Homo sapiens: one gene and its partner. The protein of the gene in region 2 purifies or fractionates together with the protein of the main gene of each other region. This does not show direct contact. Each region holds a gene or a part of one and is shown on either strand. Other genes may lie near its edges.

Region 1 (5,210 bases), on a different chromosome or scaffold from region 2:
TGGAGAGGGGGTCGGGGCAGCTGCTTCACCCTCTGACGAGAAGCCTACCTCCTACTGTTCAGGATTGGGTGTTGGCCCAGTGAGGTGTGTCCTGCCTGCGTGTCTTGTGCCTGTTGCTATAGACACTGAGGTTTGTTCACTCTGTCTCCCACTCCTAGGACACATCGGATAACCATCACCAACTTCTGCCTCGGGAAGCATCTGGTGAGCGAGGGGGACCTGCTGAAGGACCAGAGAGGGAGCCCTGCCTACATCAGTCCCGACGTGCTCAGCGGTACGTGTGTGTGCCAGACATTGGGCCTCTAAGCTCAATACAGCCAGGCTCTGTGACAGTCCACTCAGCAAATTTGTGGGCAGGCCCTGGGCAAGGTGCTGGGGCTTCACTGGGGGCCCAGACCAGTACTGTCCCTCCCCATACAAAATGTTTGGTCTGTTGGAGGTGGAAGACGTAATGATAACATGAATGCATGTTTAATTCCTCTGAGGTTAGTGCTAGGGAGGAACGGGATTGCTGTGAGAGTGGATGAAGGGTGCTTGGAGGACTTTCCCCACAAGGTGTGACAGTTGAGCTATGATCTTAAGGGAAACTAGGAATTCCCTGGGTATGTGTGACTAGGCTGAGGCTGAGGGTCCCAGAGGCAGCACAGCACGTTGGAGCAATTGCAGGCTGCTCAGAAAGTGAGCCTGGTTCAAGGGGAAGCCAGAGAGGTGCGCAGGGGCCAGATCAGGCAAGGCCTGACATAGGCCTCAGTAAGAGATGTCATCCTTTACTTCAAGTGCGAGTGGAAGCCATTGAACAGTTCTTAACTGAGTGTGCTGCTGTGAGTTTGTGTTTCAGAGCCCTCTCTCCTTGTCTGTGTTCATTCATTCTGTTACTGTTTGCTGAGGGCCACCCAGGCCCAAAGCTCTGTTCTAGACACTTTGGAGACAACAGGGAACAAAGTAGACAAACATTGCTGCCTTCATGGAGCTGACTTTCTAGTGGGGATGAGACAGATAATACACGAAACAAATAAGTAACTCACAGGCCGGGTGCAGTGGCTCATGCCTGTAATCCCAACACTTTGGGAGGCTGTGGCGGGATCATAAGGTCAGGAGTTCGAGACCAGCCTGGCCAATATGGTGAAACCCTGTCTCTACTAAAAATACAGAAATTAGCCGGGCGTGGTGGCGGTTGCCTGTAATCCAAGCTACTCAGGAGGCTAAGGCAGGAGAATCGCTTGAACCCAGGAGGTGGAGGTTGCAGTGAGCCGAGATTGTGCCACTGCACTCCAGCCTGGGCAACAGAGCGAGACTCCATCTCAAAAAAAAAAAAAGAAAAAAAAAAACTCATAAAGTTACTGCCCACTGATCTGATTTCCAAGTTCCAGACACTGTGCTGAGCGTGACTCGCGTTATCTGTTTAAACCACACAGCTACCCTGTGAGGCCAATATCTATCTTAAGTCCTTTTTTCACAGATGAGGAAATTGAGGCTCAGAGAGATGACATCTCTTGTCCAAAGTCGTAGCTAATAAATAGTAAACTGGAAAATGGAGGCGCAGCCCCAGGGCTGCCTCCCACTAAAGCCCATTCTCGCAACTCTTTCACTGTCGACTCTGTTGCTTTCTCTTTCCCCCTTGTCCTTGGCCCAAATCCTTTAGGGAACCGGGGCTTACACCAGCTCCCATCCCTCCAACATGGAGAACTTGGGGTTGTCTCCAAGATCCTTCATCCCCACCCCACACATGAGTGCGCCCTTTCCGTGCAGTGGCCGAGCCAGCCTCGTCCCAGCTCTTCACACACATCCTGGTGAGCAGGCTGCTGTAATACAAGCACTTACAACTCCCTCGGAGGCTCCCCCAGCTGCCGCTTCTGCTGGAGAGCCAGGCCTGTCCCCAGGGCTGCCCGTGTGCAAAGACAGTAGCACCATTCCCCAGACCTGGGGGTTTTGGTTAGAGTCACTACAGCCTCTGCTAGAGGGAACTGGGTGCCAGGGGTATACCCTAACTCCTGGGGCACCACCCCCATGGCCCAGCACAGTCTGGCACCCTCTACAGTAATCCCCAAAGCATCCCCATAGGAGATAGAGCCAGGCTCCTCCTTCCACCCAGCCTGTGAGTGGGGCTGTGCCTGTTTGCAGGGCTCAGGCTGTGGGCTAGCCCTGGATGGGACTCCTCTCTTGCAGCACCAGCCTAGAGTGGCCTTCATTTGCAGTCTGAGGCTCTGTGGCCCTCCCTGCTGTTGCCAGCAGCCTATCCTTCTGGTTCTTCCAGACTCGTGCCAGTCTTGGAGGATGAAACAAAGGAATCTGACTGAATCAGAGAGAATCCTCGACTGGGAGACCAGAGACCTGGGTTCTCATTCTGGCCTTGCTGTTGAACCAGCTGTGTGATCACGGCCTCCAATCTCCTTCTGACTTCAGCCTCCTCCCTCCTGGGTTAGAAGCTGAAGTACCAGCCCTACCATGTGGGTTTCCGACCCAGGTCTGCCCTTTCATTTATTCTCCATGTGCCCAGCATGGGCATGGGGCATGGAGCTGTGAAAAGGCAGGCCTGGTCTGGCCCTCATGGAGGTGATAGTCTGGCTAATAACCATGTGAATTTGGGGGAAGTTACAGACCTCTCTGAGCCTCCATTTTCTCATCTGTAAAATAGGGATGGCAGTAGTAGTACTTGAGGGATTAAATAATGCCCTTAACCAGCCAGGCGCGGTGGCTCATGCCTGTAATCCCAACATTTTGGGAGGCCGAGGCGGGCAAATCACGAGGTCAGGAGATCGAGACCATCCTCGTTAACTCAGTGAAACCCTGTTTCTACTAAAAATAAAAAAAATTAGCCGGGCGTGGTGGCGGGTGCCTATAGTCCCAGCTACTCGGGAGGCTGAGGCAGGAGAATGGCGTGAACCTGGGAGGCGGAGCTTGCAGTGAGCCGAGATCTCACCACTGCACTCCAGCCTGGGCAACAGAGCAAGACTCTGTCTCAGGAAAAAAAAAAAAAAAAAATATATATATATATATATATATATGTAATGCCCTTAACCTAGTGTTTGGCATGATCGTTGCTGAAAGGGAAGCTTGTGGGTACAGTGTCCCCTCAGAAGCCAAAGCCCAGGGAAGGTCGCCTGCCCAGGTCAGGCTCCCAGCGAGTTTGTCTGGGGAGGGGCCATTCATACCTCCAGGTCAGGACAGAGGCTCGGGCTGAGGGAACCCTACACAGGTCCTGGAAGCAGATCCTTCCTGCCTAAGCCAGCAGGACAGCTCAACAGGAAGCATCTTCCAGCCACGGGAGGAGAGGCAGCACCTTTTTTGGAACCATACAGAGCTAAGAATGGTGGTACAAGTAATAGATTCTGTACTGGCAACCCCACTTGGTGGAGCAAGTTCTAGGAAAAGGGGGCTGTCCTTGAGTCAGCCATGGGGTCAGCCACACAGTCACCGCAGCTGCTCTTTGGCACCGGGCGCTGGAAAGAGCCTAGGATGACACAGCCTGGAAAGAGCTTGGGAGAAGCTCATCTTCCACAGAACTACCTGCTATACCAGCCAGGGCAGGTGCTTATTCCCCACAACAGCCCTCTGTTGTAGGCGGCAGTGCCATCCTGAAGGTGCCGTGGTACCTTCTGAAGACGCAGGCTGAGGCCTGTAATGGCACTGCCATGCACACATGGCACACCCTCTCCCGGTTAAACTGCTTGCCCTTCACTGGGCCCTGGTTGCCCAGGGAGGTGACGCTAGGGTGCCTGGCAGCGTCTCTTCCACACCCACGGAGAACGGAGTTGTGTTCTGGGGTCCAGGCTGCCACAGCCTGCTGGTATACCAGAGGGTGCATCGCAGGGAGTGGGCAGGGCCAAGAGCTTTCAAATGCTCCAGTGGTCTTCATATTTTGCATTTGGGGGAGTGGGTCAGACAATGGCTGTATTGCTGCTGGGTGGGTGGACAGGTTGCCCTGAAAGGAGGCAAGCAGCAGAGCCTGACAGTCAGATGTGGGCCCACTGAGCAGCCATGTGGCCCTGGACAGAGCAGATCACTGGGCCTCAGTGTCCTCAAGCTGTGGAGCACAGTTAGTGAAATAAAAGTGTTTCTTCCCATGCTGTCCTAAAGCGGGTGCTCCGTTAGATGCCTGCTCCTTTTCGCTTTACAGATGAGGAAACTCTCACAGAGAGGTGAATTAAGTGGCCATCCTTCATTTAGCAAATACTTGGGTCCGTGCTGGGCACTGGGGCTCAGCAGTGAACACCGCAGGGAGGCACCTGCACCTGAGAACTTCCCTTCTAGAGGGGAGACGGGGAGTCACAAGTAGACAAAGGAGGGGACCTGCAAGTAGTCATCCGGGCTGTGAAGGAGGCAGGTGGGGTGTGGGGACGGTGACAGGAGGAGCGGCCAGCTCATCTGGAGCCAGCTAGTTATCTGCTGTGCCAGTGTTCTTGACCCCCTGCTTGTGAGCTGCTGTGCTGGGTGCTGGGGCTGCAGACCCATGCCTGGCTCCCAGGGGCTCGCCATCTGGCCGGGCGGGGCAGGTGCTGTGAGCAGGTGCTGAGTGAGCCCTCTCCTTGGGGCAGGAGAGGTGCATCCTGAGGAACAGGGGAGCGGGGAGCACGGGCAGGAGCTCAGAGGACGACTCTGGGGGGACTGGAAGTGAGGGTGGCAGGTGGAGGGTCCCAGGTGGGATTCCAGGCTGGTGAGCCACGGTGGTGCTGTGGCCTGAAGACAGTGTGGTATGTGTGTGCCCGTAGGCCGGCCGTACCGTGGCAAGCCCAGTGACATGTGGGCCCTGGGCGTGGTGCTCTTCACCATGCTGTATGGCCAGTTCCCCTTCTACGACAGCATCCCGCAGGAGCTCTTCCGCAAGATCAAGGCTGCCGAGTATACCATTCCTGAGTGAGTCCTGCCTCCCGGGGGGTGGGGGGGGCAGCCAGCCTGATGGGCTTAAGGCAGGGAAACGGCACAGTGAGCCTGGGCATCCTGGCCACAGACCCAGCACCACCCACTGAGCCCTCCTCCCCAACTCCCTGCCTCAGGGATGGACGGGTTTCTGAGAACACCGTGTGTCTCATCCGGAAGCTGCTGGTCCTTGACCCCCAGCAGCGCCTGGCCGCCGCCGACGTCCTGGAGGCCCTCAGTGCCATCATTGCATCATGGTAAGTGGACAGGCACTTGACCGGGCACAAGGCTGCGTCCTCAGGGCCTCTGCCCATCCTACCCAGAAAAGCAGCCAGTAGTCAGCCTGCTTCTCT
Region 2 (5,210 bases):
CTTCATTAAATGTACCTCTTAATTATAATATTCTGATACCCTAAGGCAAATTGTGTTTTTTGAGCACAGTAACTATATAAAAACAGGCTGCTTTAAAAGGACTAGCCTGCAGAAAGTTTCCAAATACAAGTACATTGAATCTACTGTCCAATTTGGCTTGTTTTCAAACTTCAGCAGATGTGTGATCATATCATTTGTTAATTGCCTGGAGTAGAGGATTACAGCATATTGAGTGGTAGCTAACGTATGTTTTACAATTTATTTTTGCCAAGAATCAAATAACCATATGGCTAACATTAATCAAGAAATTATGTTTTATGCCTTAACAATGTATAACTCTTTTTACTAATTGAAATATACTTCATAAAGACCAAGCCACTTTTGTAATTGTCATATCTTTGCAGCACATGCTCAGGACAGCAATGGAAATGTTCCCAGCATGTATGCCTTGTTCGTTCAGAATTAATTGAACAGGTCAATAAAGGAGACTATGGGTGAGAGAAATCTTGCTTTGTATGTTTCTTGACACTGCCATTTACTATGCAGGTTTCAATGTATTGCTTGGTTTCTATAAATGGTCATTGTTTAAAAAGAAAGAGTGGGAGAGAAATAGGAAGGGAGATAGAAAGCATGTAAACCTGGAATGCAAAGGTAAACATTAAATAATTAAAATGATCAAATAATAAATCTACAGCATAGCTGTAAATTATCTAGGAAAGAGCAATGTCGTGGTGTAGGTAAGGGAAGTGGAGGGAAAGCTACTTTGGATAAGTATTTAGGCAAAATCAGGAAGTCAGCAAAATTCATGTATTCATACTAACCATTTCTCCCTCTGCTGCTGCCCTCACCAAGCCAATCACATGCTTAGCTATCATGGGTAGAATCTGACCTTACAAGGATGATATTCAAATAACAAGCCAATCTAAATAATTTCACTGAAATGATGGGTATCTAACCAATGTCACTTACGGTTGAATCAAAAGACAGATTGAGCTACTTTACTTTGCTAGTACACAAAAAGTAGGGATGATTGACACTGAAACATTGGAAATAACTGATGCTCTCATGCAGATTGAAAAATTAGGTGGCGTCTCCATTTACATAGAGGAAATTAAGATGTAGGCACTGGCCCGGCGAGGTGGCTTATGCCTGTAATCCCAGCACTTTGGGAGGCCAAGGTGGGTGGGTGGATCACTTGAGGCCAGGAGTTCAAGACCAGCTTGGACAACTAGTGAGACCCCATCTCTACTAAAAATACAGAAAAAATTAGCTGGGCATGGTGGTGCATGCCGATAATCCCAGGTACTCAGGAGGCTGAAGCACAACAACCACTGAAGCCTGGGAGGCGGAGGTTGCAGTGAGCCGAGATTGCGCCACTGCACTCCAGCATGGGAATCGGGGGGTGAAACCCTGTCAAAAAAACAAAACAAAACAAACAAACAAAAAAAAAACAAGAAACATAAAAAGATACAGGCGCCAACACTGGCTTTTATTATAGAACTAAAAGGAAGAGGAACAAGCCAGCTGGTATCTGCTTCAGGATTTCTCCACTGCCATTGAACGAATCTCGATATACCCTTGATAACATCTTCTACATTTCTGGAAAAGATTTCACATAAAAAGATCTATTATCAAGCAATTAGAAAAGTGAAATAATCTGGAGAAGTATTTTTATAAAATGGAAGTGTAATCTCCTTCCACATATAACATGTTGTTTCCCAGCATAATGGGGACACTAAATTTCAATGTATTCAAAGTTTTTTCTTGGAACATACAAAACATAGAAAGTCACATTTGTTGATATTAATATCCTTAAACCATTCTCAGTTCCTCTGTGTGTTTGTGAGTGTGTGTGTTTGTGTTAAACCAATATTTTAGAAGATAACTTGATGACATCTTCAGTATTTCCAGGGAAAACCAATTATAATTTTCTGTGGCAAATCATATTTAAATTATTCAAAGAAGATGAGAGTATATGTCATCTTGAGAAATTGAATCAGATTCCTAAAAGGGTTCAAATGCTAGACCTAATTAACATACATTCCTAGCTTTCCACTGTTAACAAGTACATGAGAAACTATAGTCTAAACCAATGTGGTACACCTAAGAATACACACTTAGGAGCACAGAGGTTGTTGGGAATGCTATTAGGTTGGTGCAAAACTCCACCATTACTTTTGCACCAACCTAATATCTTCCTTGGAAGGAGGAACTTTCTTTCCATGATTTATTTATTTTGAGCATGCCCTACGGCTGCTTAAGAGGCATGGGCTTTGCATTTTAGTAGCAAATATTAAAACATCACATAACTTTAAAAGAGTAGAAAGTGAAGTATAATTGGAGCAAAAGGAAACATATAAAAACCAAAGGAAAAAAGTTAAGTAAAAGGAGCAAGCTATAAAGACAAGAAATAAAACTAAAATTATTTACCAGGGCAAAAAAGGGGGGAAGTCTTTAAATTTAAAAGAAAGTTCTAATTCTCAGCTATTCTCTCTTCATTATGCTCAAATTGTTTTTATGTGTAAAAATATAACCATATTATATCATTCAATATTTATTAAGTGCTTTTTAAAATAGCCTACATCAAATATGCAATCTTTGGTTTAAAATATTTCTTTCCCACATCTTGACAGTATTTTAGATCCAAGTCTTTATTTATTCTATGTAATGTACTTCAGTGCTTATTTATTCTCTGTATTATTTTTTAATGTAATCAGTTGATATTAATAAAACATATGTTCCACTGATGGCATGGCTGAGGATACAAATAAATCATTTTGGCCTGGCGAAGTGGCTTATGCCTGTAATCCCAGCACTTTGGGAGGCCAAGACGAGCAGATCATTTGAGGTCAGGAGTTTGAGACCAGCCTGGCCAACATGGTGAAACCCCATCTCTACCAGAAATACAAAAATTATCCAGGTGTGCTGGCACAGGTCTGTAGTCCCAGCTACTCGTTAGGTTGATGCACTAGAATTGCTTGAACCCAGGAGGTGAAGGTTGCAGTGAGCTGAGATCACACCACTGCACTCCAGCCTGGGCCACAGAGTGAGATTCTGTCTCAAACAAAACAAAAAAACAAATAATTTTTATGTTAAGGGAATTTACCATCTAGTTGAGGAGCCAACACTATCATATCTTTATAAAAGGATTTCTAATAATAGGGGAGAATAGAAGCTGTAAATTAGTGGCACAAGTAATAATCAGCAAGTTAGTGGAATAAAGGGAGATATATAAGTGTTTCAATTAACTGCTGCTGTATAACAAACCATTCCAGGATTCAGCATTTTAAAACGATAAGCTTTTCATCTTTTCACATCAGCAATTTGGAATAGGTTCAACTGAGGCTCTTTTGCTGCTCTCTTTTGGAATTACTCCTGTGTCAACAGAGCCTCAACTGAGGCTGAATTGTCTGTGATGGCCTTACTCTATGTCTTGTGGTTGGTGCAGGATGTTAATTGGGCCATGTTTCTCCAGCAGGCTAGCTTTGGCTTCTTCTCATAATTATTATTCTAATGGGGCATACGTGGAAGTTGCCCCAGTCCTCCCTTAAAGCTTATGCTTGAAAGTTTCATGATATCAATTCTACCACTTTCTATTGGGTAAAGCAAGTTACTAGGCCAGCTTACATTCAAAGGCTAGTGAAATAGATTCTTTCTTATGAACTCAAAATTTGGTCTACTGGATAAGTGGCTTTCATTTTTCACTGTTTTCTCAAAACCAGCTCACCCCAAACTGCAGTGATTAACTTCTACCTATTCTTAGTCACTGGCATCTTGCTCTATCTGCTCAACTTGAAAATTTGATGTTAGTTTGGTTCTTCCTTCCTTTTACTCTCAGTCAGTAGGTATTGCTAACTCCCACACAAAAAGTTTCTCTTAGATATTTACTTCTTCCATTCTAGACTATATTCTAATGCATTTCTTTATCAAGCCTAGTTTGAAATTACCTGACTTGTTTCTGTTTCCAGAAATTCTCAATGGTACTCCATTGCTTGTGAAACATAAGTATTGTCCTTAGCATAAATAACATGTTGGTCCAAAAGCTTTTTTACTACCTTATCTTTTATACCGTTTTCAGCCCCTGTGTCCCTATCCTCTCTCCTAGTTTAAGCATTTTACTTATCTGTCATTCCCTAAACATGCCACCCAACTTCAAACCTGCATGCTTTGCTCAAGAGTTACTTTTACTTTAAACAAATGCTCTCTTCTTTCATGTCTGGTCACCAAGGTCATTCTCATCCTTCCAGATAGAGAACTAAATTTGCTTTATGTAAAAAATTTGCCAACTCCTTCAGTTGTGTTTGAAGCTTTTGATCATATTTTGATATATTGCTAACAAATGGCACATGCCAAAGTCATTTCTATCTTTGCAGTGTTTCTTAAGGTATGAGCTTCTTAAATGTAGAGAAGTTTATTCATATCTATGTTCTCCGTGTTTATCAGAGAATATGATAGATCAATTAAGAAAGTTCAATAAATGCTAAATTGGATTAAAATGAAACTTATGAGTCCAGGTCAAGAAGGATGTTATAGGTTAGTCATACCTTTCACACTTTTTGAGCATATCTCACAGTAGAACATACATTTTACTTTGTGATCTAGTACACACACACGTGCACAAGCATCAACACACACATACAGACACAGAGAGTTTATTACCTCAGTATTTGTAATAAACTCTACTATTTCCTATTATTTCTCCTATCTTCTATTTTACTTTCTTAAACTATCACCCTGCTCACCAAATTGAGTGCTGAATTAAATAACCTATGAATGTCTCTGACCTGATGTTTGAAAACTACTAACATAGGGCAACAAAAACATACTTACTGATGTCACAGTTTTGCCCAATTTTGCCCAGTTAGCCTTTTGAATTATACTACAATATCTCTTATATTCAGAGGTTCCCTTATTGAGATTGCACTTTAAATTGTAACCAAGTTTCTAAAGATTTTATGAACTAACAGATCTTGTACAAATTAAAAGCATTAACTTGTGAGGTATATTATTAAAAATTAAGTTGTGTTTTCAATGATTCATAAGAGCCTATCACATTATAAACGATTTTGGTGATAAACATAGCAGGACAGGGTTTAAATTTGATGTGAGTACTGAAAATATATTGACCTAAAGTGGTAGATAATTCAGAATAGGCAATGATTAAATTACTTGCATCTTTCTAATTTTTTATCCACTATCATCTAGTAAAA

The links. Proteins that work in one complex are often made in the same cells at the same time.
Region 1: the proteins of TINAG (region 2) and STK40 purify together in Homo sapiens (affinity purification with mass spectrometry; 2 studies listed by BioGRID and IntAct, with this or other methods). This does not show direct contact.

The regions. Positions count from the first base shown.
Region 1 is NC_000001.11:36,343,764-36,348,973, reverse strand, and holds part of STK40 (serine/threonine-protein kinase 40), read left to right. Parts: intron 1-158; coding exon 159-274; intron 275-4,709; coding exon 4,710-4,854; intron 4,855-4,994; coding exon 4,995-5,114; intron 5,115-5,210. UniProt on the Homo sapiens protein: May be a negative regulator of NF-kappa-B and p53-mediated gene transcription.
Region 2 is NC_000006.12:54,320,893-54,326,102, forward strand, and holds part of TINAG (tubulointerstitial nephritis antigen), read left to right. Parts: intron 1-404; coding exon 405-494; intron 495-5,210. UniProt on the Homo sapiens protein: Mediates adhesion of proximal tubule epithelial cells via integrins alpha3-beta1 and alphaV-beta3. This is a non catalytic peptidase C1 family protein.